Regions from separate parts of the Homo sapiens genome. Here region 2 is linked to region 1. The links come from fine-mapping of genetic effects on gene expression. A gene starts in region 1. The other region holds a variant in brackets. All regions are shown on one strand. Distances are between the middles of the regions.

Region 1 (15,243 bases):
CTGACTTCATCATTTTTTCCACTACAAAGTGCCAAGGCAGCTGGTTGGGAGCCGTGAGGCCACCTGTCCCCCGTCCTGGGAAAACCAAAGGATGAGAAGCTTGCTGGAGTCCCTCTCCTGTAGCACCCACCACCTCTGGCAGATAGCCTGGGAAGAGGGGCAAGACCACTCCAGAACATCCTCTCACAGGCTAAGACAAGGTCTAGGTGGAATTAGCCTGGGAACGCTGAACGAAAGGCCGCCTGGCCCAGCCATGTTTGCATCTGGGTAGCTGCCCCACCTCTGGGCTCTTAGCCAAGCACATTCCCTACATAATCCTGGCTCTCCTGGGGAAGGATGCTGGAGGATGGCTCCCCTGCAGCTGACATCCTTGCACTTTAGAGACCTTCAAATCTCCAAAGGCCCAGGCCTGTGCAAATTCTTAGAGACAGTCAGCAGCAAGGCCCAGATGGCAGAAAACAGGTCATTTCTTCCAACCCTCTGCCTCTGATTCAGACCTGCTTTCTCTTCATGTATAAAAAAGACCAAGTGAAGAGGTTTTCTGTCTTTCATTTCTTCAGTAAAATTCTTGATAAAGAGGCCTGCACAGTGTTGGCAAATAAATACTTGGTAATATGTGCTGAAAGAATTATGCTTCATCTCTTTTGTTGTTGTTGCTGTTGCTGCTGCTGCTGTGTTGTTGTTGTTGCTAAGACAGGGTCTCACTCCGTCGCCCAGGCTGGAGTGCAGTGGCACAATCTCGGCTCACTGCAACCTCTACCTCCCGGGTTCAAGCAATCCTCCCACCTCAGCCTCCTGAGTAGCTGGAATTACAGGCGCACGCCAGCATTCCTGGCTAATTTTTGTATTTTTAGTAGAGACGGGGTTTCACCACGTTGGCCAGGCTGGTCTTGAACTCCTGACCTCAAGTGATCCACCCATCTCAGCCTCCCAAAGTGCTGGGATTACAGGCGTGAGCCACTGAGCCCAGCCTTGCTTCATCTCTCTTTCTTTTCTTTTTTTTTTTTTTTTGAGACAGAGTTTCACTCTTTTGCCCAGGCTGAAGTGCAGTGGCGCGATCAACCCCCGCCCTTCTGGTTTCACATGATTTTCCGGCCTCAGCCTCCTGAGTAGCTGGGATTACAGGTGTCCCCTACTACACCCAGCTAATTTTTGTATTTTTTAGTAGAGACGGGGTTTCACCATGTTAACCAGGCTGGTCTCGAACTCCTGACCTCATGATCCTCCTGCCTCAGCCTCCCAAAGTGTTGGGATTACAGGCGTGAGCCACTGCAGCCGGCCTAGCATCATCTCTTTTATTAAGTGCCTACTGCATGCACTAGACACAAGATCTTCTTGAATTCGTCCAACCACCATGGGAGGGGGGCCTTGTCGTCATCATCCTCTTGTACAGATGTACCAAGGCTCCAAGAGTAGAAAGCAGCCTATTCTAATTTAACTGGTACAAAGAACATTCAACCAAAAGGATTCTAAAAAGTTCAGAGATAAAGTATACATTAGTCAATTCTTGTTGCTTAAGAAGATCTCAAAATCTCCATGACTTGTAACAACACGTACATTTTTCTTCTTCGGACCTCTGCAGGTCAGCTAGGGGTTCTCTACTTCAGGCTGCAGGTTGAGCTCAGGTTTGCCCTGTGGGTCATGGCTCAAGGCAGAAACCAAGGTCAAGTGGAAATATGTGATTCCTCGTGAAACCTCTGCTCAGAACTGGCAACTGGTCATTTCTTCATCCTCCACTGATCAAATTGAGTCACAGGCCCGAGTCCACCATCACTGAGTCAGGGAGATACTATTCTCTGCTCATAGTGGGAGGCACCGCAACCCTGCAGCCAAGGGCGTGAATGTCTAATTCTGATACAGGGAGTGGGTAAAAATTGGAGACTATGATCTAATCTACTGCAGCACAGTTCCAGGGGTGGCTAATTAATTGTGTGACTTAGCAAAGATTCTCCTCAGGCTCCAAGGTGGCTGCCACAGCTCTGACCCAATCTCTGGCCACTCACACGCTACGCTGAGGTGTGGTGATAGCGTGACCAACCTTCCTGGTTTACCCAGGACCGAGAGGTTTCCCAGGATGCAGGGCTCTCAGTGCTAAAACTGGGAAAGTCTGGGCAAACCAGGATGCGTTGGTCACTTGACGTGTGTAGCAGATTGTTTCTGAACGTTTGGGGGTAACTGGGGCAACATGTGAGTGTGTATGTGAGAGTAGTGCATGTGTGTGTGTGCGTGTGTATGTATATGAGTGTATGTGTGGTGTTATTCCACAGCCCAAGACAGCAAACAACTAAACACTCAGTATGACACATCACCAATAGAAATGGTCATTTATTGGCTCCTAATTCCACAGAGGATGTCACACTGGGACAGGCCCCCAATCTGTGCTCATGTCGGCCTGGTCTTTGCCCCCTCTTTCAGGCTGCCCCCTAAAACTCTGTTGTCCTTCCTTAATTCTACAGAGCAATTTTGTTCAACATCCCAACTCCAAACCTATTTTACATACCCCAAATGTTTAAACCACTGGCCCTTGGCACAACTAGACTGCAGGGCTAAAAATCTGGGGGCAGGTGTGTGCTGTTGGTCTATGCAGCGTTTTAAAATAATTGGAGCCATTATTTCTGGCTTCTCTTGAGTCTAAAGATCTGGCCACACTAGGCATGTATTTCTACGTGGCTTTAGTTGGCTGGTACTGCCAGAAGCTGCTTCCTTTTGGATGGGGCAGCCCTCTCTAGTTTTCCATTGTTCCCATCCCTCCCTGTTGCCTTCCTGATATGACTGGCTCACTTCATTCATTTGCAATACTTGCTCGAAGACTTGAGTTTACCACTCTCTCTTTAGCAGCACAAAAACACCAGAAACGTTGCGGTTTGGGTCTCTCCTTCCCCTCCACCTCTCAACCTCGTTTAGCTTCTGTAAGTGGAAGAATTTATTCTTGCATTGTTCCAGTTTTAGACGGCAGCTGTGCTTCCTTTCGTAGCTGCAGCAGCCATGAAAACACACCTCTGGGACCTCCCTTGGTGGAGCCTGATTGACAGATATGCCATGCTTCCCAGGGTTTGCTCCTAGCCAATCACTGGGGGAAGCAGACTTGTTCTTGGGAGACATAGGGCTCCTCAGGAGGCTCAAGGACAACCTGTTAGCCTTGAACTAACTTACTTACTTTCTTTTTCTTTCTTTCTTTTTTCTTTTTGACAGAGTCGCTCTGTCACCCAGGCTGGAGTGCAGTGGTGCGGTCTCGGCTCACTCTAATCTCTGCCTCCTAGGTTCAAGCAATTCTCCTGCCTCAGCCTCCCAAGTAGCTGGGATTATAGGTGCCAGCCACCACTCCTGGCTAATTTTTTGTATTTTTAATAGAGACGGGGTTTTCACCTTGTTGCCCAGGCTGGTCTTGAACTTCTGACCTCAACTGATCCACCCACCTCAGCCTCCCAAAGTGCTGGGATTACAGACATGAGCCACTGTGCCCGGCCAGACTTGACCTTTCTAAGAATGCACTGCAGCCCACGGTCCCTTCTTTCCTCTGTCCCTTCCTTCCATTTGTCCTCCTTTCTGTCCCTTTCTCCCAGCCCTCTCTGGCTCCCTCTTCATTTTACTCCCTGGCACTCCCTCAATAAGCCTTTAGTATATCTCATCTCATCTTGGCTCTCCTGGAGAACCTGCTCCTAACCGATTTGGAAAAATCAAAAGGTAGAGAAAGAGAGGGCTTCCAGGCAGGTAAACAGCATGAGCAAAGGTGTGGAGGTGGGAAGGCCCAGGGTGTGTTTGCAGCACCAGGGAGTAAGTTAGCTTGTCCTAAGAAGCCATCAAATTCCCATGCTCTAGCTTATCAAAGGAAGTACTACGTGACCTTGGGTGAAGTGACTCTTTCTGGACCTTGATTTCACCATCTGTGAATTCGGAATAATTTTACTACCCATTTTATAGGTTCTTTGTGGGGAATAAATAAATTATTATGAAAAAGTGTTTCAGATGGCTTCAGTTACTAACTAAAGTTAGAACTATTGTTACAAAAAAATATTTAAAACTGCCCCTCTCTGTTGAGACTGGTTTTTAGCCTTGAAGAAGGCAATACACATAATATTTTCCTTTCCGGACACAGTTTATTTGTAGCCTTTAGGATGCAGACATGAATCAGACCTGATCCTTGGAAGAGAGAAAGCAGGGGTGTAGGGTAGAAGGGCTCCCTTTCCCAGGCAAAATTCCCTGTGTTCTAATTGGGTTGGGTCTTGACATTACTCTCACAACCCCACAGTGGCCACAGAAGAGAGCAGAGGCTTGGTGAGATGGGAGAGTTGCCTAGATGTCTTGTTTCTACTGGACAGTGAACATCTGAACACACTGAGGCTCCTACAGGGAAATGTCTGGATGTTCGTCCCTGGGAGAATAAATTTTCCCGGGGGTCCAGTTTCCCTTCCCCAGAGGAGCTTCCCTTCCCCAGAGGAGGGCTTAGATGGCACACTTGGAAGCTCTCTCGGTGGCTCCCTGCTATCACCACTACCAGCAACATGCCCATTGCACAAGTAAAGTAGTTGAGGCTCACAGATTAAGCGACTTGCTTAGGTTTATATGGAAAGCAAAACTTGCTTTTCAAATCCTTGCGTATTCCAGCCCTTTTGCCATGGGCTAGAGGGGTCTTCCTTGGGATGGTCTTCCCTCATCTTTATTCTGAGGCCATATCAGCTCTGTCCTCAGCAGGGTCCTTTGAGTCCTCCCGGGGCAGGGGAATTCGGAATTTCTGCTATTTTCAAGGCCTGCCTGTTCCTCCAAGATGCCATAGCCAGAGGGTTGGATGTCCTGTCAGCCTGATAAACATAGAAAGCTTACACAGTAAGCAAAGTAAAAATAATAAAACAAAGCAACACTTTTGAATTCTCGCATGGGCCAGTCCTGCAGAGGTGCTCCGGATGCATCATTGCCTCATTTGGTCCTCCCTTCAGCCATATCTAGAAGGCGTCTCAGTTGGGAATGTCTTTGGCTGCAAGTATTAGAAAAATCTGACTCATGGTGTCCTAGCACAGACGTGTGGTTAGCTCATTAAATGAGAAATCTATAGGCAGGTGGTTCCAGGGATGGTGATTCCGCAGCTCTGGTTTGGGGCTCTGCAGTTTTCTTGGCCTTCCCTCATAACACTACAGCCCCCCTCAGCTCCCCCACTAATCACATTCCCACACGATTGCCCCCAAAGCAGAAGAGAAGGCAAATAGGAAGGAAACACATTTTTCTAGAAGCCCGCAACAGATATCTGGAAGGTGCCCACCTCAGGACAAATCACTAGCAAAGGTGGATTTCCTGGACCAGCTCAGACCCATGGTGGGTCATTCTCTGGGAAGGGGGCCTGGCCACCTTCCTAAACATATGCCGACTCCTGAACAAATCCAGGAAGAACCAGAGGCTCACATTCATCTCCCTTTGGTGTGTGAGCAGCTGCCTCTCCTTCCCTGGGAGGATTTTGTCTATGGGTCGAGAAGGGAAGAGAGTATCTGGAAGAGATATTTGTATTGAGGTGATATTGGTCTGCACTGAAGCCAGGGGTGGGGAGTAGAAGAACTAATATTTATTGAGTACCTATTGTATACCAGACCCTGTGCTGGGTGATTTCATTCTCTTTTCATTTAATTCAGTTCTCAAAGCAGCCCCATGAGGAAGGAACTGTTCTTCCCATTTTTCAGATGGGAAAATTGAGACCAAGCCTGATCACAGATAATGGAGAGGAGCGGAACTGGTATAAGCGCTAATTGCGGTTAACTTTCCCTGATGCTCATGGTGTGACAGGCACTCACATAGGTGTGCCCCATGGACCAGGTCGTTTGTTCCTGACCTCAACTCCATGAGGTTCTCTTTTCCCCATTCTGTCAATGAGGAACCTCAGCTTAGGGAGGTGGAGCAGTCTGCTTGGGGTCACAAAGCTGAGGATCGGCCAAGCCCAGCTGTGAACCCCACTGCTAGCAGACAGCCCTTTGGAGCTCCCCAAATTTGGAGAAAATCCTCTGGACCCGTTCTATGGCCTTCTTGGGATTGTTGGCTTCTCTGGCAGATAAGCTGGAAAAATAAACAAGAGGATCAGAAAACTCCTTTTGCCTCCTGCTGTTCTGAATCTGCTGAGGCCACAAGGGGGTCATCCAGCTGCCTCGACAGCCAACATTAAGCAGGCAAATGAATGAATCTTGAGTATGATAGCAGGACATGTGAAGTACTGCCAGAAAAAAAAACTATCAAAAAAACAAAGAAACAAAAATCAGTAAGAGGAGATGACTGTTTTAGACCAGGTGGCCAAAGACAGCTTCTCTGCAGTGACAGCTGAGCAGAGATAGAGGCACCGGGGAGGTGGTGGAAAGAGCAGGCTGTGCGAAGAATGCTCCGAACAGAGGGAACAGCACGTGCAAAGGCCCTGCAGTGGGACCTCTAGGGAAAGATGGGGAGATCAGTGTGGCTGGAGCAGAGTGGGTGAGGGAGAGAGTCGGGGGCATAGGGTCAGGCAGGTAAAGGTGAGAAGGGGCGGATCATGCTGGTTCTCGAAGGGCCTTGTCAGGACCCTGGCTGATAAGGATGGAAGCCAGGAGACCAGGAGGAGCAACAGCTTCTCCAGAGCTCTGCTGGGACTATGGAATGAAACGTGCCTAAGCTCACCCGGCACTGAATGGGTGGATACAGGACTAGAACAAGACCTCCTGGGTCTTACCTCCAGGTTCAGCCCATGGTTTCATAAAACTTAGTGTGCCAAGCACTCAACAGTTTGTGATTCCTTTTAGTGTCAAGCTCTCATCACTTCCTCACAACAGCCCCAGAGGTAAGCACAACTCTGCCCTCCCTGTTTCCAGATAATGAGGTGAGCTCAGAGAGGTTGAGCTACCTGCCCAACGCTTCCCAGGGTGGGAATGGGGATGGTGGGGGCAGGGGCGTGGAGTGAGGCTGGATTGACCCCCAGTTCTCATCAGCACCCTGGGGTGGTACATTGCAGAGCCGCGGGCACAGGGGGCTGGCACCCCAAGCACCAGGTAGCGATGACAATGGCCACCACATCCGGAGGCCCTAACGTGCACCAGGTAGAGGGTGCATACTTCACGGGCACTATCTGTCCCCAAAGCAGGTGAGGATGAGGGGACTCCCTGAGACACCCTTGTACCCCCTGCCCAGTAGTTACTGAAGATACTATAGGGTGCGATATAATCCAGACCAGCCCTCCCAGCCCAGACCACAGAATGGAAAACTCCAGGTCCCCAGCACGCCTGGGGTGGGGGATGGGGTGAGGAGGAGCCTTGGGGGGTTTCCTCTGTCTAGGTGGAATGTGGAATGTGGTGGGAAAGCTCCTCCTGACCCCCTTACACTCCTCCTCCATGTTCGTCCCCTCCCACCACATTTTCTCCTCCCACTGTGCCCCCTCCTCCCCATACCTCCTTGGCTGTTTCCCCATCGTCCCGCCGTCTTCCCACATTCCCTCCTCTTCCCTTCCCCAAAAGTCCTCTCCCATCTTCCCCATCCCTCTTCCCTCCCCGCATATAATCTCTTCCTTCCTGTAAATCCTCTCCCTCTCCCCTCCCTTCCATCACCCCCCAGTCCACCACATCCCCCTCAGTCCCCCATCTATCTCCTTTCCCCTTGATCACTCCCCAGCCCACCACATCCCTTCCGCCCCCTCCCCCTCCCCCTCCTTCTCCCCTCCCCTCCCTCCCACATTTTCCATCAGGCCTGAGCTGGGGGGAGCAGGGTTTCTAACAGAGCGCCCCGGTCCGACCCCTGCGGACCTCGGAGGGCCCCATCCCCCACCCCCCCCACCCCGCCCCAAAGCGGGCTGGGGTGGGCGGAGTGGGAGGGGCGCGCCGGGTGGGGGCGGGGAACTTTACCTGGGAGTGGGCCAGGCCGCCAGCCCCGCCAGCCCCGCCAGCCCCGCCAGCCCCGCGATGGCTTGGGCCGCGCTCCTCGGCCTCCTGGCCGCACTGTTGCTGCTGCTGCTACTGAGCCGCCGCCGCACGCGGTGAGTGTCCTGCTCCGCTCGGCCCCGCCAGACAAAGGGGGCGGCTCCCGCCCGGGCTGCAGCCCAAGGGTCTCGGAGCCCGCGGCCGGCCCGGCCCGAGTCCCGCTCCAGTATCCCGGGCAAGGCGAGACCCTCGGAGGTGGGAGTCCCGGGGCCCCGCACGTGGGTGAGGGGGCCAGGCCGTGCTCCCCCTGCCAAGAAGGTGCAAGGTGGGAAGGTGCGGGGTCCGGTAGGTCCCCCGGGGCGAATCGCCCACCGCGACAAGTCCGAGTCTGGCCCTTAGCGCGACGGCAGGGACCTAGGAGGGGGTTTCAGGTGAGGACCGAGGGTTTGTGGGTGGGGAGCCGTGCGGGGACAGCCTCTGCGTGGCCCGGGTGGAAGAAGCGCTCTCCACTCTCCAGCCTCTGCCTGCACCTGGCACCCACCTACGCGCTGTCAAACCCTGCCTTGCTTTCGGCAGTCCTATAGGGATAGCCTCGCTCCTCAACCCATTACACAGATGGGAGTGTTGAGCCAGCGGAGTGTAGAGCCCCTGGGGGATGTCTTGATCATGCCCTGGAACCACCCACCCCGGGATTCCCCGTCTGGAAGACGGGGGTCGGTGGGCTTAGTAATTTCATTTGCCAGGGAGAAACTGAGGCCTATGAAGTCTCTACCTTCCCCTGAGGTCCCACAGCCTGGACAGAACGGAGCCAGGGTCAGATGTCACAGCCTCCTGGTCCCAAAGGTTTTCCAGCTCCATTGAGCATCTGTGATTTAGGAGAAAAAGTAAAGACAGCCTCAAATCAAGGAGATAGCTGTAGCTCTCCTTTTCATAAAATATTTTTTAAGTTAACTTGAATTGCATAAGGAATAGCTGAATACATTCGACTTAACACAAATATTTATCCTGTTATAGGTAAGACCGAAGCCCCTTAACCCTCCCCCAGCCCCTGAAGTCTAGTCCTCTCTCCCTCTCTGGGCCTCTCCTGTTGCTGAGTCTGGGTAGAACCTTCCATATTTAAAAAAATATACTTTTTATTTGAGACTAGTTTGGGATTTACAGAAAGTTGCAAAGATAGTACAAAAAGTTCCTGTATTTCTCTCACCCCGTTTTCCCTATTGTTAACATCTTACATTGTTATGGGACATTTGTCGCCACTAAAAACCAACACTGGTCCGTTACTCTTAACTAAACTTCAAACTTCACGGGATTTTATCCAGTTTCCCATTACTGTCCTCTTTTGTTCCAGGATCCGGCCCCAAGTTACCACATTGCCTTTAGTTTTCATACCTCCTCAGTCTCCCAGATGTTTTAAAAATTACTCTTACATAAAAATTACTCTTACATACATAGACATGAGCTTGTAGCTAATACAGAGCCACGTAAGAGAGAGTTAGTTTACATTCGTGTCTGAAAATTCCGGAAACCTTGGGAACTTTTTGATTTTTAAACAATATGGTAGTTGAATTTTCAAACAATAAGCTCACTGTATTTTTCTTCAACCTCCAGACATCTTTTCAGCTGAAATTTACAACTGTGTAGTCAATCATTTGCCTTAAAACAAGAAAAGAAAAAGACAGTGAATAAATGTCTCAGGGAAGAAATGAATTATTTTTCCTGTCAGGCTTTCTCAATACACTGTATAGAAATGTTTTCAGACATTATGTTGCTTGCTCTTTTCACTCCAGATTTTAGTTTTGACATCTGTTCTTTTTGCTACAAGCAGATCTTTTTGCTACAAGGAGATCGAATCCATTCTTTTGATCCTCTCTGGAGTCTTCCATCATGTGAATACGTTATGGGCTCTTTTTTTGTTTGTTTGTTTGTTTGAGATGGATCTTCCCTCTTGTTGCCCAGGCTGGAGTGCAATGGCACGATCTCGGCTCACCGCAACCTCTGCCTCCTGGGTTCAAGTGATTCTCCTGCCTCAGCCTCCCCAGTAGCTGGGATTACAGGCATGTGCCACCATGCCCAGCTAATTTTTGTATTTTTAGTAGAGACAGGATTTCTCCATGTTGGCCAGGCTGGTCTCGAACTCCTGACCTCAGGTGATCTGCCTGCCTCGGCCTCCCAAGGTGCTGAGATTACAGGCGTGAGTCACCGCGCCCTGCTGAGCCTTTGATTTTTATACCTGTGGGCACCTTGGAAGGGTCAACAGTGGGTAGTGGGGAGAAGTGTGGGAATGAGGGTCACTGGCAGCTTGAGGGTAGGTGCATGGACCCTGGGGACCCCAGTTTAGATCCCCAATCTCACTTTCTCCTTCCAGTTCAGCTAGGGACACTCTGGTTATCTCCATTTTACAGAGGAGGAAACAGGCTCAGAAAGGCTAAGCAACTTGCTCAAGGTCTGTCTGGATTAAAACTCTGGGCTGTAAGAATTTTTAGCTTTTACTTTTAGTGATAGGATCTCACACTGTGGCCCAGGCTGGAGTGCAGTGTACAATTATAGCTTACTGGAGCCTTGAACTCCTGGGCTCAGGTGATCCTCTCATCTTAGCCTCCTGAGTAGGTGGGACTACAGGTGTGTGCCACCATGCCCAGTTAATTTTAAAAATTTTGTAGAGATGGCATCTTGCCATGTTGTCCAGGATGGTCTCAAACTCAGCTCAAGCGATCCTCCCACCGCAGCCTCCCAAAGTGCTGGAATTACCGGTGTGAACCACCACGCCTGGCTTTGCAAGAATTTTTAATTCACAGGAAGAATGAATTCTCAGTCTTCCCACACATTATACTGGTAATCTGAACACTCAAAAGTCTTAGAACCATGTGACTTTTAGATACTAAGAAATGCAACTACAAGCAAAAAATTCTTAAAGAAGGACAATGGCCGGGAGGGCGGATCACGAGGTCAGGAGATCGAGACCATTCTGGCTAACACGGTGAAACCTCATCGCTACTAAAAAAAAAAAAAATACAAAAAAAATTAGCCGGGCGTGGTGGCAGGCGCCTGTAGTCTCAGCTACTCAGGAGACTGAGGCAGGAGAATGGCATGAAGCCGGGAGATGGAGGTTGCAGTGAGCTGAGATCCTGCCACTGCACTCCAGCCTGGGCGACAGAGCGACTCCATCTCAAAAAAAAAAAAAAAAAAGGGCAAACAAGTGAAACAAGTGGGTGACCCTGATGCCGTCTGAATGGTGATCCAGTTTGGGTTAAAATAAGCAAGGCTCTCCAGCTCCCTTGTCTCATTTCTTTATCCTGACCAAGCCTTGAGGTAATTTCCATCACCCTTATCATACAGCTGAGGTTTAAAAAGATGAAGTGACTTTCCCAAGGTCATACAAAAATTATACTCCACATCTAGGCCCCTCCAAAATTCATGCTTATCCCAGTAAGACACCACTACTTCTGGGAGTGAGCAACTCCGTCTTTACCTTTAGAATTTAATTTAAAACTTTTAAATTAGGAAACATTTCAACTATACAGAAAAAGAAAAAGAATACGGTAAGAAGCCCCATGTACCTATACCTTGATTTGACAGTCATTAACATTATTTAAAAAATATTAGACATAGGCTGGGCACGGTGGCTCACACCTATAATTCCAGCACTTTGGGAGGCTGAGGCGGGCCGATCAAGAGGTCAGGAGATCGAGACCATCCTGGCTAACACGATGAAACCCCGTCTCTACTAAAAATACAGAAAATTAGCCAGGCGTGGTGGCAGGCACCTGTAGTCCCAGCTACTCAGGAGGCTGAGGCAGGAGAATGGCGTGAACCCAGGAGGCGGAGCTTGCAGTGAGCGGAGCTTGCGCCATTGCACTCCAGCCTGGGCAACAGAGCGAGACTCCATCTCAAAAAAAAAAAATTAGATGTCATGATATTCCACCCTTGAATATTTCAGAATGCATATAAAACTGACAACTACAATTCTATTTTCTTGCCTGAGAATATAAAAAGATAATTCTTAATGTCATGTAGTTCCCAGTTCAAATTCAAATTTCTGCAATTACAGCAAGAATTTTCGAGCCCCATTCGGTGAACATGAGGGTGGTGAGCTGAGAGTTAGGAGTATGGCTTGTGGGCCCCTTGAAACTAATTGATTTGCCTTGTGAGTATCAGAAGCATTCTTCCTGCTTCCCAGGCCTCAGTTTATCTGTACTTCGAGGTGGCTCATGGAGGTGGTCTCTCAAGCCCCAGCCATATCACCAGGCTACTGCATCTCTTCCTTTGGGCTTGTGTGACCACCACAGGGAGCACTGAGAGAGATCTCTTGGTTGGGAGGCTCCTTTTCTGGGGGTCCGGAAGGCATAGTGGCATCAAGCGAGGGTCACTGTGGCCCAGTGGCTGGTCTGGGCCCTTGCAGGATGCAGAATTTGTAGGCACAAATAAATCTGTCTCATTCTAACATGCACTGACCAGAGGTCACCCAACAGTGGTCCGTGACTGGATTCAGCCCTGGATGGGCTGGGTTTGTGCTGTGTGGGACATGGGGAGAAAATTGGGGGATTCCATACACAAAAATCTAGATTTCCAACTTCTTCTGAAAAATGGGAAGATCTAGCAATACTTTCCTGGGACTCAGTGGTAGCACCCTCTCTAAATCTTGCCACAGTCCCCACTACTCCCTATTGCCTCTCCAGCATGCAGCTATTCTAGTTACCACTGTACTTCCTCTGCTGTTTTTTCCTGTGTTGAGAAATAATTCTGTGAATTTGTGTCTATTTCAAAAACCAGAAAACAAAAACTAGGGCAAGGCCACGTGCTTTTTATGCACAGTGGTAGCAGTGCGGGGCAGGTATGGAAGAGCATCTGGGAAACCCTGTTAATGGCAGACTGAAAACCCTGGAGGCCTGTGGGTGAGCCCTGGGGGAAGAATGGGTTAAGCAGGTTAAACAGAATTTTGGGTTGCTCCAGCTCACCTGTGCAACTAAGCCCCCTTTTGTTCCCCATTAAATCCTCCCAGAGCTTAAGGCCCTGCATTGAGTTGAAATGATTGAACAGAGAGGTTGGGCAGTCTACCCAACATTGCACAGCTGAACCATGCCAGCCTCTGCTCTGGACAATCTAGAAGATGGACTCTGTGTCAAGTGCTTAACCTGCATTGGCTTTCTTAACCCTCTCAGCAACTCTGGGAGGCAGGTGCTGCCCATTGAGCACCGACTGCATACATGATTCATTCAGACCAGCCACTGTTCTGAGTGCTGGAGTGAACAACACGCCCTCCCTTCATGGCTCTTCCATCTAGTGAAGATGCGATACGTCAGGGGGCATGGAGGCGGGTGACATCCCATCCTTGACTCCTTTCCCTGGTTCACAAAGGGTCAAGTGGGAGAGAGATCCAGGGCAGGCGACAGGGGTCAGTGAGTGAGGAATAGGCCGTTTTTAGAGGAACCCATGTGATGGGGCTCCAGTCGGAAATCAGAAAAGATGCCTTGGGATCTGACCCAGGGTGGGCAGGAAACCGGCTGTGTGGGCAGGAGCCGGGGATGGAAAGGTCAGGGCCCACCGCCCTGCCCGCCAGGGCCTGGCAGTACCTAAAAAAAAGTGAGAGTGTCCGTGGGTGGGGCTAGAGCCCACAGTCCCCAAAACAGAGCCTCCTTCGCCCCCGCTGGCTGCAGGCTGAGTCACCCTGGAATGTGACCACGGCCTGAGTTGGATTGAGGGCCCAAGGCTGGAGGAGCCAACATCAGGGGTCAGGCGCCTGGGCTCCGGGCTTCCTGCCTTTGTCTGCGCCTCCTTGGGACTTTTCTGGGGAAAGAGGAAAGCTGCCAGGAATAACACCTGGCTCGCTGGGGAGCTCCGGCCACAGCCAGGAGAAAGGCAGGGGAAGAAAGCCTGCTCCCGCCTGCAAAGATGTTTTAGGAGAAAATTTCAGGGCCTGCATTTGAGTAGGTCTCTGGAATATCTCTGCAAAATGGAGGTGAAAATGCCCACTTAGGGTGACTGGGGGCCAGGGTAGTGTCAAGAGGGTGGGCACTGCAGCCAGACCTGTCTGGATTAGAAACCCAAGTCCTCTATGTTGGACCCTCTGGCATGTGACTTAGCCCTCTGCACCTCAGTTTCCTCCTCTGTAAAATGGGCCTGGCAGTAATAATTGCTTCCTCATAAGGTTAGGGGGAGGATTCATTGAGTCACTGGGATAAAGTCCTCAGTGTGGTGTCTCCCACACCATCAGCGTTCATTAAATGTTAGCCATTATTTCCAAACAAGGAAACGTTTGGAAAATGCCAAGTATAGCTCCTGATGTGTAGTTGGCACTAGGTAAATGGTGCCCAGGAATCTTACTGCTCCTGCTTCTCAGCTGCTTCCCAGCTACTAGGTGCCAGGTGCTCTGTAACTCCCCTCATCCTTGGCACAGCCCAATGCAGTCAGTAGCATTATTGCTTCCATTTTACAGATGAGGAAATAGAGGCATGGAGAAGCTAAGTCACACAGCCAGCAAGAAGCGTGGCTGGGATTTGAAGCCAGGAAGTATGGTGCTAAAGTTTGGGCTCATCGTGACCATGCCCTCCTGCCTCTTATGCAAAAATCACTGCTTCTGGGTCCAGTCTGCCAGGCTCTGACCTGGGCTGGAAGGGGGCTGCCATGAACCAGTTATTCCAAGGCTACTTGGGCAGCACGACACGTGGAGACTTCAGGAGAAGTGGCCTTAGCCCAGGGGCTCACAAAAAGATGAGGCACAAGGCAAGGCCCTGCACCTCCTTAGACTCACAGAGCTCAAATTTGCAAGTCTCCTCTTTGACTAGAGAAGCCGGGATGGGCTGGGGAGAGGAGGGAATGGTTGGGAGAGGCACTTCCTAGGCCCTCAAATTTCATCTTTGCTTCTGCTCCCATCCTTCCCAGCCTTGGCCCTCAAATCTGGCCATTTGCTCCTGCCCACGAGCTGTCCCACCCTTTGGGTTATACTGGGGGCAGCCAGGTAGAGGGAAAAAGGGAGCAGGAGACAGGGGCAGAGGGAGGTAGAGAGGGAGGGGGAAAGGAGGAAGAGAAGTGGCTGCTTCCCTGAACTGCTGGGTGTGGAACAAAAGGCCCTGTGCTGAAAGTGGGAGACTCAGATGTTAGGTCTGGCTCCCCGGGGACCATGGCCATTGCTTCCACCACATTGCTCTCCTGGGGGGGTCACGGTAGTTCCCTGACACATCTCCTTCCTTCCTCTTGTCTTTCTCTGGTATGACCCTTTAAAGGTGTGGTCACATCACTTACTGGCTCCTGCTGCAAACCCTCCAGTGGATCCCTGCCACGCGTGGCATAGGAGCCGGACTCCCACCTTGGCCTTGGCCCTCGTGGTCCACAAAGTCATCTCCAGCATCATCGCCTACGTCTCGTCCCCACATTCTCCACTCCAGCCACGCTG
Region 2 (15,243 bases), 26 kb before region 1:
CAGTTGATGAGCTACTGCATGCGGGACTCTTGGGATGCAGCAATAGTTTCCTGTGTGTGCACAATGTGCTTTTACTTTTTAATTTTGATTACGATTTTTCTTTAGATGAATATTCTGCATATGTATACAATGTGCTTTTTTTTTTTTTTTTGAGATGGAGGTTTGCTCTCATCACCCAGGCTGGAGTGCAATGCTGCAATCTCAGCCCACTGCAACCTCCGCCTCCCGGGTTCAAGTGATTCTACTGCCTCAGCCTCCAGAGTAGCTAGAATTACAGGCGCCCGCCACCACGCCCAGCTAATTTTTGTATTTTTAGTAGAGACAGAGTTTCGCCATGTTGGCCAGGCTGGTCTCGATCTCCTGACCTCAGGTGATCCACCTGCCTCGGCCTCCCAAAGTGCTGGGATTATAGGCGTGAACCACCATGCCTGGCCTACAATGTGCTTTTAGCTGAGAGGAATGGCATCATGCAAAGACCTTCCTACTCAACGTATGGTTCCAGATCAGCAGCACAAGGAGCACCTGGGAGCTTGTTAGAAATGCAGCATCTGGGCTGGTCGGGGTGGCTCGCACCTGTAATCTTAGCACTTTGGGAGGCCGAGGTGGGTGGATCACTTGGGTTCAGGAGTTCAAGACGAGCCTGGGTGACACAGTAAGACCAGGTCTCTACAAAAAATACAAAAATTAACTGGGTATAATGGCATGCACCTGAAGTCCCAGTTACTTGGGAGGCTGAGGCAGGAGGATTACTTGAGGCCAGGAGTGGAGGTTGCAGTGAGCTGTGATCATGCCACTGTACTCCAGCCTGGGCAACAGAGCAAGACTCTATCTTAAAAAAAATGCAGTGAATGCAGCATCTGAGTCCCCACCCCAAACCTATGAGCCAGAATCTGCATTTTATCATAGTCCCCAGGGCCCCAGTGTGAACATGGGCACGTTCGAGTTTGAGTAACATTGCCACTGACCTTGTTCTGAAACAATTGGAAATTGGTGCTCCCTTTTCCCTGGGGTTGCTGAGCTGGTGAGAATAAAGCTGGGAGTGGCAAGGGGCAACCTTGGTCACATCATGACCTGGAGAGTCTGTGTGGAGTAAAAGAGATGAGAGCCAGAGGTAGTGCATCTTTGTAGACATTGATTTAGCATCTGGATCCAACCATGCCTGAAGCCTATCTCTACTCCTGCTTTTACCAGAGACAGTTGACGTAAATTCTCATGACATCAGCCAATTTGAGTCAGGGTTCTGCTATATTTTTCATCTGATAGAGCCCTGCCTAAGATACCCACTGTATGGGCTATGGAACTTCCTTGCCTTCTTTTCTTTTCTTCTCTCTTTTCTTTTCTCTTCTTTTCCTTTTTTTGAGACAGAGTTTCACTCTTGTTGCCCGGGCTGGAGTGTAATGGCGTGATCTTGGCTCATTGCAACCTCCCCCTCCGGGGTTCAAGCGATTCTCCTGCCTCAGCCTCCCGAGTAGCTGGGATTACAGGTGTGCCCCATGATGCCTGGCTAATTTTGTATTTTTAGTAGAGACGGGGTTTCACCATGTTGGACAGGCTGGCTGGTCTCAAACTCCTGACTTCAGGTGATCCAACCACCTCGGCCTCCCAAAGGCCGAGGGATCACCCAGAAGACAGGAAGACCCAGGCCACAGAGAGAATACTGCAGATATCATGAGCCACAGAGCCCTGAGCCACTGACCTGTCTCCCAGGTCTTGGCTTGGGCCTCTTCCAGAAGCAGACACTTAGAGAGTCCAAGGGCAGGGAACTTAGCGGGGAGCTGATCGCAGGAAGCTCTGAGAGCAGAGGGGAGGGGGCAGCTGGTACTGCTGGGTGTCTAGATGAGCAGGTTATCAGTTGGGCAGCTGGGGCTCCGTCCTGCTGGGGCCTCTGGGAGTGGGTGCAGAGTCCACCTCAGGGTTGCTCCTCCCCAGGCCCCAGGAAGCTGGAGGATTTACCAACACCCCCATCCAGCAAGCATAGGCCAGAGAACCACTGCAGGAAAACAGAAACCTCTCCCCTGGACGTGGTGCCATCAGCCCAGAGCTGCCAGATCCCCAGGCCTCCATCCTCATCTGGATTGAAGCAGCCATCCGCCTGGAAAGGGCCTGTCTGCCTGGAAAGAAACTTCAAATGCGGCTTTGGGGGGATTCCAGAGACTGTCTGTTCCCATCTGTGCAAGAGGGACACTGAGTGTTCAAAACCTAAGGAGGCCTCGCTGTGAATCAGGCCAGAGCAGGGGCTCACCTGGGAGGGGGGTCTCCTGACATTGTGCCGGCACCTGCTGGCCTCACCTAATGCCTGGCCCTGCCTGAGAGCAGACCAAGGGAAGATGAGACTAGAACTTTAGGAAGATCGCTCTGGCCGCTGGATAGAGAAGGGACTGTTGTGGGGAATGGGGGACGAGGGTAGAGTCAGGGAGGCCCAGGAGGGGTTGTTGCCACTGTCCATCCATGCAGTGAGGCCCAGAGGGGTAGTGGGAGTGAGGGAGGCTGGGTTTGCAACTCTGGGGTGAAGGGACCTCCATTTTGTTCAGTGATACGCCCTGCCCTTCTCTATCCCATACAAGCTGTGTGACCGTGGGCAAATTACTTCACCTCTCTGGGCCTCAGTTTTCTCATCTGTGAAATGGGGGCATGCTTCTCTATACCCACCTATATCTAGAGGGTGATTGTGGGATTATGAGTTAACACGTATATAGCACTTGGCCTGTAGTAAGTGCTACAGAGTGTTGGCCTCTGTTCTTATGATAGTTATTGTTACTGTTAGTATTAGTATTCTTATTATCGTCATCTCCCTCCAAATTTCACACCAGTGAATCCAGACTCCAGGCAGCCATGTAAATCTGGGGTTTAACTCTTGAAACTGAGTATGTCATCCACTTATCTTGCTATGACCTCAAGAGTCCCAGCCCCAGATATCTGAGACCCTCGTACCCCCTCCCAGTGCTCCAGGACCTGCCTCACTGAATTCCTGACCCTGATCGCAGTCTACCCTGTCGGGCTGGGGCACTTGGGCCGTGTCACCTCAGTGTGGGCCTAGACAAGGGAGCTCATGGCATGTCCTCCCTCCTGTTTCTCCCTGCCTGTGCGTCTGACCCTGTCAGTTGAACCTGTGACATTTGCTCCTACAACTGGCCACTTCTCTGTCTCTATGGCCACCACTCTGTCCAGGCCACCTCTGCAACTATAACAGCCTCCTTGATAATCGTTGACTCAAAAGGGAGGTTTTGTGTTCAATTTCCTTTATTTATCTATCTATCTATTTGTTTATTTATTTATTATTTTTAGAGATGGGGTTTCGCCATGTCACCCGGGCTGGTCTTGAACTCCTAGACTCAAGCGATCCACCTGCCTTGGCCTCCCAAAGTGCTGGGATTCCAAGCATGAGCCACTGTGCCTGGCCCTTGTGTTTAATTTCAAATCACACAGCCTGTTGCACAAGTTCGAATAATATAGAAGCATATCTAGGCCGGGTGCGGTGGCTTACACCTGTAATCCCAGCACTTTGGGAGGCCAAGGCGGGTGGATCACGAGGTCAGGAGTTCAAGACCTGCCTGGCCAAGATGGTGAAACCCTGTCTCTACTAAAAATACAAAAATTAGCTGGGCATTGTGGTGGGCGCCTGTAATCCCAGCTACTCGGGAGGCTGAGGCAGAGAATTGCTTGAACCCAGGAGGCAGAGGTTGCAGTGAGCCAAGATTGTTTCACTGCACTCCAGCCTGGGTGACAGAGTGAGACTCTGTCTCAAAAAAAAAAAAAAAAAAAAAAAAAGAAGCATATCTAAACTTAAGACCTTTTGTTAACTCTGGAAAGATGTTAATAGTAGTGATTTCAGGGGAGTGGTTAGGGACAACTGGTTTCATATCATTTGCATTTCATTGCTTAGATTTTGTGACAAGTGAGCATTGCTTTTATATTTTAAAAATTATGTTTAAAACATAGGTAAGACATTTAAATGGGAAAAAATTCAATGACAGAAAAAAGTATCCAATGAAAACGAGTGTCTCTCCCCACCCTTAACCCCCAGGTTTCACTTTCCCTAAGCAATGCTGCTTCCAGTTTCCCACGGGCTCTGCCACTGAAAGTCTGTACGTACGAAAACACACATGATTGTATGCACTCTTTATTTACATATATAGATGCATGTTACACCCAGTGTCTTGCAGCTTGCTTTTTTTAACCTAACATACCTATCATTCTTTCTAATTCATCACACATACCTGTGTTGTCCTTTTTCACAGCTGCATAGTATTCCACTGCATGGCCGGACCATATTCATTAATAGTTATTTTCTTACTGATGGCCCTTTAGGTTGTTTCCAGCCTTTTCTGTTATAAAGCAATACTGTGGACCAGGCACAGAAGCTCACGCCTATAATCCCAGCACTTTGGGAGGCTGAGGCTGGAGGATTGCTTGAGCCCAGGAGCTTGAGACCAGCCACAGCAACATAGAGAGACTTCATGTTTACAAATGAAATAACAAGCTGGTTGTGGTGGTGCGTGCCTGTGGTTCCAGCTACTCAGGAGGCTAAGGTGGGAGGGTCACTGAGCCCAGGAGGTTAAGGCTGCTGTGAGCTGTGATTGCGCCACTGCACTCCAGCCTGACAGAGCAAGGCCCTGTCTCAAAACAACAACAACTACAAACAATACTGTGGTGACTGTCTTTGTACATAGTGTGGTGTGTGTGTGTGTGTGTGTGTGTGTGTGTGTGTGTGTGTGTGAATGTATCTGTGGGAGAAATCTCTGGAAGTCAGATTTTATAACAGATTTGTGCATTTTACATTTTGATCCATATGACCAAACTGCACTTTGTAGAGGTTGTACCAATTTATTCTCCCACCAACAATGTGTGAGGGTGCCTGTTTCCCCACAACTTCATCAGCACCATGTATTGTGAACTTTCTGATGTTTTTGTCACTCTAATAGATGGAAGCAGGTGTCTCAGTATGGTTTCAGTTTCTATTTTTAAATGAAGAGTGAAGCAGAGTACCTTTTGCTTGTTCAGTGAAGCATAGTGTCATTGGCCAGGCGCAGTGACTCACGCCTGTAATCCCAGCACTTTGGGAGGCCGAGGTGGCGGATCACCTGAGGTCGGGAGTTTGAGACCAGCCTGGCCAACATGGCAAAACCCTGTCTCTACTAAAAATACAAAAAATTAGCCAGGCGTGGTGGTGGGCACCTGTTCTCCCAGCTACTCGGGAGTCTGAGGCAGGAGAATCTCTTGAACGTGGGAGGTAGAGGCTGCAGTGAGCCGAGATTGTGCCACTGCACTCCAGCCTGGGTGACAGAGTGAGACTCTATCTCAAAAACAAACAAAAAAACAGCAACAAAAAACCGTAGCATCATTGTCACATGTCAGGAAGCTCCATTGTAAAATATAAAAATAATTTAAAACAAAATAAACATATAATAATAATTTAGGCCAGGCGCAGTGGCTCACGCCTGTAATCCCAGCACTTTGGGAGGTTGAGGCGGGTGGATCGCCTGAGGTCGGGAGTTCAAGACCAGCCTGGCCAACATGGTGAAACTCCATCTCTACTAAAAATACAAAAATCAGCCAGGCGTGGTGGCGCGAGCCTGTAATCCCAGCTACTGGGGAGGCTGAGGCAGGAGAATCGCTTGAACCCGGGAGGTTGAGGTTGCAGTGAGCTGAGATCAGGCCATTGCACTCCAGCCTGGGCAACAAGAGCGAGACTCCGTCTCAAATAATAATAATAATTTAAAACAAAATAAATTATTTTGTTTTGTTTTCTCCTTGAGCCTCCATACCGAGGCCCATGATATATGTCCCTGGATGTATATGTGTCCTTGTGAAACAAGCAGAATTATTTTATGATGAGTGTTCTGATTTGCAGAGTTCTCCTGTTCCTCACTTGCTTTCCCCGGCGTTCTGTTTCCCAGATCTCTGCCTGTAGCTGTGCATGGCCAAGTGTCTCTCCCCATGCTGAAAAGCCACTTACTTCATTTCTCTTTCTTTCTGGGTGAGCTGTTGCTCATGTGGAACATTTTTGGGGTGGAACATTTTTCAGTCATGAGGAAACTTGGACCCTCAGTCGGTTTCCTTTGAAGCCAGGGAGACACGTGGGGCTGGAGGGAGGGCACCCCAGCTTTCCTGTGACTCATCTGGGTCCTGCTGGGCCACACAGGCAGTTCCCACATGGCAGGACCACGCCTGGGCAGCCCCCTGCAGGCACTGCTGGCCTAGCCTTGGGAGGGGAGCTTGTAGGGGTTGTGAGGGGCGCTCAGAGAGAGGGCTCATGGCCAGGACTGTCCCCTTTAAAGCTGCCGGACTTCAGGCCTTCTCTTTGGGGCTCCCCGACACAGCCCAGGGCCCACCCCTCTTTGTGGGCACAGGATGGGTGTGGAAGGGTAGGGGCTAAGTCACAGCTCTTCAGCCCTCAGCATCTCAGCTCTCCCCGAGTCTCCTCATCAGTAAGACGGGGAGGACCACTGGGGTAGCTGAGTCACCTTTCCTGCCTCCCTTTGGCGGCCACAACATTCTACTCCAGCACCCACGCAGTCTCCAAGGGTCTACTGAGCACCTGCTATGCACCAGGCATTGGACATACATAAAGCAGCAAACCACGTGCCTTCCTGGAGCCAACGCCTGGTGTGTTTGGTGTGTGTGGTCAGCAGACTCATGCGCCCTTCCCCAAGACGTCCTCATCCCTGGAACCCGTGAATGTACAAGGTTACACGGCCAAGGGGAATGGAGGCTGCTGAGCAGTCTCCTTGAGCTGGGGGAGACGACCCTGGATTACCCAGATGATGACATCGTGACCCAGTGTCATCACAAGGGGCTTAGTGCAGGAGGGAAGCAGAGGTGTTGCAGGCGGAGGGATGCAGCATGGGAAAGATGGCCTCGCCGTTGCTGGCTTTGAAGATGGAGGTTGGAGCCGTGAGCCCAGGAATACAGGTGGCCTTGAGAAGCTGGAGGAACGGATTCTCCCTGTGAGCCTCTAGAAGGAACGTGGTCCTGCCCACACCTTGATTTTAGCCTGCTGAGACCCACTGTGGGCTTCAGCCCTCCAGAACTGTAAGCTCACACATTCATGTTATTTCCAGCTCCCAAGTTCACGGCGATTTGTTACAGCAGCAACAGGAAAGGGAAACACAAATAAACACGTGTAACATATGTGTCCCACCATCCTAAGCACAGCAGGGTCAAAGGAAGCCAGATGGAGGCTAAGGACTGTGGGGGATGTTTGCATTTTTAAACAGAGTGAACAGGTAGGGAGGGTCTCACAGAGAAGGCGACATTCAAGTAGAGGTCTACAGTAAGCCATCTGCATAATGGGTGAAGTGAACCAGGCAGAGGGAATAGCGTGTGCAAAGGCCCTGAGGTGGGAGCAGGGCTGCTGTGTTCAGGGCTGAGCAGGCACCATTGTGCCTGCGTAGAGAGATCAAGAGGGGACAGAGGGAGGAGAGCCCATGGAGGTTGTGGGGGTGCGGGTCAGATGAGGGCCTGGTGTATTAGAAGCTGCTGGACAAATGCATTCCAAGGTCCTACGAGCCATGCGGGGACAGAGCTCCCAGCCTCCAATGGCAGAGCATGTTTCTCCAGAAGCAGGGCTTGATCCGCCCTGTTCCCAGCTCTGCCCAGGCCTGCTGAAGGGGTTTGCACGTCCCTGAAGTAAGGAAGGGGTGTGCTTACCCCCTCTCTGCCACCAGCTCTTACCTTCTAGGCCAGCCCATTGCTTGGAATGTTTTCTTCATCCCAGTGCCTGATACAGCCTGGTCCTGGCAGGAAGCGGAGGCTGCAGTGCACCCAAACAGAGATATCGTGACCTTCCT[G/C]TCACCCTGGAACTGCCAGGCCTAGAGGAGAAGGCGGCACTGCCTCCCTTGGGATCAGGGCTCAGGGGTTGCCCTGAGCTTGGGCAACAGGGCTGCAGCCGAAGGAGAAAGGTCACTGTTTCCTCTTCACTTCCTGTGCTCTGTGACCTGGGGCTGGTGGCTCACCTTCTCTGGGCTTTGATCTCATCTGTGCCACGAGCAGTTAGATGAATCATGAGTTGCAAAGAAACGGCCTGCAGCCACATCCCGTCCACAGATGTGTTTAAATGTTTTAAATTAGTTGCCAATACTTAGAAATTGGGAAACTTCTTGTAAATCTCTAGATTTCTGGTTTTTCTTGAGAAACCAGATATGGCAGTGCTTGTGACTAGAGCTGAGTAGCAGCTGCCTCCGTCCCCACCCAGCTCCCTCGGTGGTTTCTGGCTCCTGCCTGGCTTTTGGAGTCTATGAGTTTGCAACCCTGGGCTCTAGAGGCCCTTCCAGCTCGGATTTCACTAATTCATGCAACAGAAATCCTTTGAGTGTTTAACATGTGTAGGACTCAGAGATAAGTCTGTTTTACAGATGATGGAAGGGAGGCTCAGAGAGGGGTTGTGACCTGCCAGAGTCACACAGTCAGTGGCGGGGGCTGCATCTGAGCCACACTGGCAATAGATGATCGATCCAAAAGGGCTTTAGCCAAAATTCATTGAATACTGACTATGTGCCCAGTGCCAGACCACAGCCCCTAACCAGACAGACAAGATCGTGACTTCCTGGGCCGATATGGCAGTCCCTGGAGCCGAGTGATCAACAGATAAATATGTAATGACACCTGGGCTAGCTGGGAAGGTGCAGATACAACCTGGGGTGGTCACAGGGAGGGAGGGGGCGACATTAGCGCAGTTTCCTAAGGAATGAGGGTTTGAGGCCAGACTCGGTGTGGACTCCCTTCCTCCTCTCATGTCTAGTATGGATCCTTTGGCAAGGGCCAGGAGACTGGAAGGGGAATCCCTCCTTGTGGCCGATTTTCCACTAAGACGGTGGTGACGCGTGGCTCAGGAGCCAGGCTGCCCGCCAGGGTGTCTGCTGCTCATCCACCATGCGACCTCAGACAGGGACTTAATCTCTCTGCACCTCAGTCTCCAAATCTGTAAAATGGAGTCAATTTGGGTGTCTAGCTCACAGGGGCGTGGTGGCAGGATGAAGTGAATTACAAATTCTAGTAAGTGAGTCACCTGGGACATTGGGCTGTGGTCTACAGTGAGGTGTGATCCCTGAGGAGAGAAAGAGAGGCTACAAAGATCAGAGCGTGTCCATCCTCTGAAGGACTGGTCAGGGATTAAAGGACTGTAGGAGACGTGGGACACGTGGTAGGTAAAAAAAAGCGGCCGTGTGTGCTGTGTAGTCCGATCTCATGGACAACGGTGGGACTTGAACCACTGCTGACTCTACCTGCAGGAATTTTCCACCTCGGTGGAGGGTGGGACTAACCTCCACAGGAGGCTGGGATTAGTATGTGGTCATCTATCCTCTGGTGAACCCAGCCAGCCGGGGGGCACCTGGGCAAGGGTTTGAGGAGGAGGGAGGAAAGTGGAAGGGAGGGAAGACGGTTGTGCCTGGAGGCGCAGAATCCTGTGTCTCCTGGCAGGGAGGAGCTGGGGTTCTTGGCCATTTCTGAGCAAACAATAATGTCTTCCCAATACATTGCAGGCTCACCACTGCCATTCTCTGTGTGCCTGACAGAGACAGAGATGCACAGGCCTTTCGCCCTCCACCTCCTCTCTCTCTCTCTCTCTCTCTCTCTCTCTCTCTCTCACACACACACACACACACACACACACACACACACACACCCCCCACCTGGATGCATCTTCACCTCTCACCCCCTTTTAATGTCCCAGGAGTTCAGCCCCAGCTCAGCCTGCTGGTTCAATGCAGGAAGAAAAACCACAAGTTTCCATTTTGTCCATACAGAGAAGGGACTGGGGCCTCAGTAGAGAGGCAGTGCCGAAGCCCCAACCCCTCACCCCACCGCCTTTTGCTCCCCATCATCCTTGGATCTCCCAGGAGAGGAATTATCCCAGATCAGAAGAAGATGGAAGCAGGAATGAGGGAGGGTAGAGGCTGAGAGACACCTGTACAGTCCTGCTCTGTCCCTCACCTGAACCTTGCAGGCAGGTAGTGAGCCTTCAGTAAATGTTACATGGATGGATGGATGGACTGGTGGATGAATGGGGGTAGATGGGAGAATAGATGAATGGGTGAGTGAATGAGTAGATGGGTGAGTGGGTGGATGAATACATAGGTGGATGGAAGAATAGGTGAAATGAGTGGGTCAATGAGTAGATGGGTGGATGGATGGATGGATGGGTGGATGGATGGATGCATGGGTAGATGGATGGATGGATGGATGGTGGGTGAGTGGATGAAAGGGTGGATGGGAGAATAGATGAATGAGTGAGTAAATGAGTGGATGGGTGAGTGGATTGAGGACAGATGAATGGGTGGGTGGGTGAATGGATGGCTGGATAAATGGATGGATGGATTGATAGACAGGTGAGTGGATAGATAGATGGATAGATGGGTGGATGGAAGAATGGATGAAATGGGTGGGTAAATAAGTGGATGTGTGGGTGGGTGGGTGGATGGATGGGTGAATGGGAGAATAGATGAATAAGTAAATGAATGGATGGGTGAGTGGATGAATGGATGGATGGATAGATGGATGGACAGATGGATGAATGAGTGGGTGAGTGGGTAGATGGATGATTAGGACTTAATCCTGAGAATACTGGACTTGGAGGAAAATTACTGGGTCATTAGGATCCTGACCACAGAGTCATCCAGGCCAACTTCACCTCCTCTCCTCCTGGTTCCCTCAAGCCCAAGCATCTTCAGGGAGAGGAATCTCCTCAGAGCAGGAGGATAGAAATACAAGGTAGAAAGGGAGCAGGTAAGGGATGAGAGGACCTGTGGGAACATGGGTCTGGACGAACAATAACCCAGCCTCTGTGGTATCTGGCTTTGTACAGCTCTGGAGTCAGGCAGCCGGGGTTCAAATCCCAGCTCTATTGCCTCCTTGCTGTGTGACCTTGGACAAGTTACTTCACCTTCCTGGGCCTCTGCTTTTTCATTGGCCAAATAGGGTAAAAATAGTACTTCCATGAGCTAAAGGTTGTTATGAAGACTCTGTGGGAGGACGTGAGGCATTTTGCACTGGGTGTGACATGCTGTTAGTCTCAGTAAACATCAGTGACTATTATTTCATGCTTGTCATTGTTCCATGTGCTTTCTATAAATGAGCTCATTTGATTCTCTTAATCTATGAGGTGTGGGCTAGTATTTTTTCCATTCCACAGATAAGGGCTGGGGAGGAGTCCTTGGATGGCTCAACTGGAAGGAAATCTCCCCAGACAGCTGCTGTTAGCAGGAAGGGAGTTTGGATCTGGGGCCTTCCACAGGGTCTGCGGCAAGTGGGTGTTGGGATGAATTGGAGAAAGATCATTGAGAAAGCCTCGGGTTGGAGTTAACTTGTCTTGAACACCTCTCTGACACCTGCCAATCTCCTTTTTAAGAAAGACACAACAGCCTCAGGCTTAAATTTTTTTTTTCAAGAGAGTATCGATTTTCTAAAGCCTCAGGCTTAGAAACTACAGTAGCAATCATACCCTGTGAGAATTTGATAACTTTTTCACATCTTCATGGAATTTATATGCATAGGGTTTTCCTTTCTTTCTCTCTCTCTCTTTCTTTCTTTTCTTTTTTTTTTTTTTTTTTTTTTTTTGCTATTTATAGCAAGTATGTGCTGATACTGGCTTTCTGTTTCTAGTGATATTGTCAAGATTCCTTTAAATGAGTTTCTTTATATAAAAAGAAAAATGCTAAGTTGTAATAGAACAGAGGGTATAAAGATGTGGCAAAAACCAAACTGAACACACACACACACACACACACACACACACAACCCCAGAGATCATGGAAAACAGTTTACTTAGCACATGCACGCAGTCATCCAAATCACACTGGCTCTCATTCATTCATTCATTTACATGTTTGTTCAACAAGTACTTACAGAGCACCTACTATGTGTTTGTACACAGAGAACAAGATAAAGTCCTCTTCTTATGGAGCTGACAACAACCCGGCAAAGAATCAAACAGAATCATTTCATCAAGTCACAAGTACAATGAAGGAAACTATGAGTCTGTTCTCACACTGCTATAAAGAAATACCTGAGGCTGGGTCATTTATAAAGAGAAGAGGTATAATTGGCTCATAGCTCTGCTGGCTCTACAGGAAGCATGGTGGCATCTGCTTCCTGGGAGGCCTCGGGGAGCTTTTACTCATGGCGGAAGTTGAAGGGGAAACAGGCATCTTCACATGGCTGGTGCAGGAGGAAGAAAGAGAGAGGGGAAGTGCCGCACACTTTCAAACAAGCAGATCGCATGAGAATTCACTATTGGGATGACAGCTCCAAGGGGGATGGTGTGAAACCATGAGAAACCGCCCTCATGATCCAATCACCTCCCACCAGGCCCCATCTCCAACATTGGGGATTACGGTTGAACAGGAGATTCGGGCAGGGACACAGATTCAAACTGTAACAGAAACACACATGTGAGAGAGACGTGTAAGGAGATTTGGAGAAAAGGCCTCCTTTGGCTGGGGTGGTCGGGGATGTCCTCTCTGCGGAGGCGACATGTCAGCTGGGACTTGGTTGATAAGAAGCTGGCTGTGGGGAGACCATGGGGAAAGACTTGGCATTAGGAACAGCAAGTGCAAAGGCCCAGTGGCAGGACCCAGCCTGAACGTTTGAGGAGCAGAAAGAAAGTCAGTGTGGCTGGAGCTGAGTGAGTTGGGGGAGAGTGGGAGGAGAAAAAGTCAGAGAGGGAGCAGGGACCAGAAACCTAGGGCCTCGAGAAACATGGGGATTATTTTTTTACAGGGATGTTAGACATTACTACTATCTTTTAACAATGGGCTGGAGGAACCCACACAGATGGAGAAAGGGTGCCTCAAAGGCCCACCACGAGCTCTTGGGATGGCGGTGCAGCTCCATGCAAGTGCAGCTGAGGGTACCTGTTGAGGAGTTTATTGTCCTAAGCAAGGGGATTTGAAGGAAGGAATGGGGGGCTGAGGCCAGCTGCTGCCCAGGCACCCGGGTTCAGCCCCTTGAAAGATCTCCTTGCTTCAGGGAGCCAGGCTGGGACTGGCTTAGCCCATCCATCTTAAAAAAAAAATATTTTTTGAGATAAGGTCTCTCTCTGTCGCCCAGGCTGGAGTGCAGTGGCACCATCATGGCTCACTGCAGCCTCCACCTCCCAGGCTCAAGTGATCCTCCCACCTCAGCCTCCCATGTACCTGGAACTACAGATGTGCACCACCACATCTGGCTAATTAAAAAAAAATTTTTGCAGAGAAAGGTCTTGCTGTGTTGCCCAGGCTGGTCTTGAACTCCTAGGCTCAAGTAATAAAAAAATTTTAAATCATCCAAATAACTCATGGAGATATTCTCCTTTTAATACATTAAAACATCATATGTGAGGCTCTGAAGTCCCCACCTGGGCCCCAGCACTCCCAGCTCCCCTTGTCCTACTTTCTCCCATAGTTTTTAGCACATCTTCCGTACTGATGTCTTCCTTGTTTGTTTCATGTCTGTCTCCCCAGGGAGAATGGCAGAGCCACAATAGGAAGGTATTGGCTTGTTTTCTTCCCTGCTGCCTCCCTAGCACCTGGCATGGTGTCTGGAACATGGCAGGTGCTTAATAAATATGTATGAAATGGATGAATGAATGAAGTCATAAAGAATGAGAACTCTCTATCCCCATTCCAGTCCTTCCTTGTGCCCCAGGAAGTAACTCATCTTACCTCTTTGGAATTTGCTCTTCTACATCTTATCCCCATGGTTCTCAACCAGGGCAGCTTTGCCTCTCAGGACACATTTAGCAATGTCTGATGACATTTTGGTTGTCACAACTGATGGGGGCGAGGGGTGCTACTGGAATCATGCCGGTGGGATGTTGCTAACCATTCTATAATGCATAGGACAGCCCCTTAGCAAAGAATTGTCCAGCCGTAAATGTCAGTAATGTCAAGGCTGTTGTTTAGATCCTGGAATGTTGTACTGCTGTTAATGGGGAGGTTTTTCTCTGCTGACCTAAAAAACCTCCAAGATTGGTTACTAAGAGAGAAAAACAGGCACAGAATGACGCACACAATATGATACCATTTATATTTTAAAACGCACCAAAAAAAAAAAGCCCTTTGTATTTTCCACAAGTCTATATAAACGTGTGTGGGTTGAGTTGGGTTTTTAGCTCTTGCCACAAAAGCAACTGGGAACTGAAGAGAGTTGGACGGGATGGTCTCCAGCATCTCTCCAGCCCGGATGTTCCCTGAATCCTTAAGTGGAGCAAACACTTGCTAAAGGAAGCGCCATCTCTAAGAAGGCAGGGAGACCAGGGCGAGACTTAGCAGCGGGAGGGAAGAGCAGGGATGGCAGGAGGTGTCCAGAGGCAGGGACACACACTGTGTGCTAAGGCCCCACCACTCCCAGGCATGGCTCCCAGACTGGCGGCTGCTGCGTTGCCTGGGAGTGCATTGGAGAAGTAGCATCCCAGGCTTCACCCCAGACCTACTGAGTCAGAATCTGCTTTCCCACAAGCCCTCCTGGTGAAGAATGGCTTTTGGCTTAAAAACACCCAGAGACACTTTTTTTTTTTTTTTTTTTGAGATGGAGTCTTGCTCTGTCGCCCGGGCTAGAGTGCGGATCTCGGCTCACTGCAAGCTCTGCCTCCTGGGTTCAGCCTTTCTCCTGCCTCAGCCTCCCGAGTAGCTGGGACTACAGGCGCCCGCCACCACGCCTGGCTAATCCTTTGTATTTTTAGTAGAGATGGGGTTTAATTTCACCGTGTTAGCCAGGATGGTCTCGATCTCCTGACCTCATGATTCGCCCACCTCAGCCTCCCAAAGTGCTGGGATTACAGGCGTGAGCCACCGCGCCCTGCCCAGAGACACATTTTTTATCTTACAAGAGAGAAGAGTGGATAAAACTGCATTTCTCTCTGTTTCCACATCTCTCTTAAACATCTTCTAACACTTTTTCTGCTTTAGTGGAGGAACAAAGAAGGAAAAGAAAATGTAAACACACAAGTGCGTGCGTGCACCCACACACACACACACACACACACGCAACATCAACGATGTCATGTACAATCCAAGTGATGGCTAACAGGCACGTATTTCTTTAATGAGCACCATTTCCGATGAAAAACATACTTCAGGCTCCGTGCAATTCTTCCACCAAGATTTGCAAGCTCTGGGGTCATCGTAACCTAGAGGTTAGACGTGATGCTTTGGACACATGAACAACAGTCTTGGCAGTAAAACCGTTTGACAGCATGATGCCCTTATGAGTTCCATCATCTGGAGCAGAACCCATCAGATGGAGCAGAGCCTGTCATTTTTGGTA

Alleles and levels. Positions count from the first base shown, and alleles are read on the strand shown. Sizes are in standard deviations (SD) of each study's normalised expression.
In carriers of allele C in region 2, the expression in visceral fat of the gene that starts at base 7,875 in region 1 tends to be higher than with G alone (small effect, 0.23 SD a copy in GTEx).

Evidence for each region. PIP is the estimated chance that this variant, and not a neighbour inherited with it, causes the effect.
Region 2: its variant is fine-mapped to the expression of PTGIS in visceral fat (GTEx, PIP above 0.99).

Annotation. Positions count from the first base shown.
Region 1 is chr20:49,560,769-49,576,011 of GRCh38, reverse strand. It overlaps PTGIS (prostaglandin I2 synthase), which reads left to right and starts at 7,875. Exons shown (of 10, transcript NM_000961.4): 1 at 7,875-7,969. The coding sequence starts at 7,896. It overlaps LOC101927486 (a long non-coding RNA gene), which reads right to left and starts at 7,968. Exons shown (of 2, transcript XR_244188.4): 1 at 7,839-7,968; 2 at 4,078-4,799. RefSeq lists enhancers at 6,344-6,958, 6,959-7,575.
Region 2 is chr20:49,587,261-49,602,503 of GRCh38, reverse strand. LOC105372651 (a long non-coding RNA gene) reads right to left here and starts at 7,934. Exons shown (of 4, transcript XR_001754713.2): 1 at 7,675-7,934; 2 at 966-1,080; 3 at 1-50. RefSeq lists an enhancer at 6,243-6,743. The variant G/C (reference allele first, on the strand shown) is at 7,791.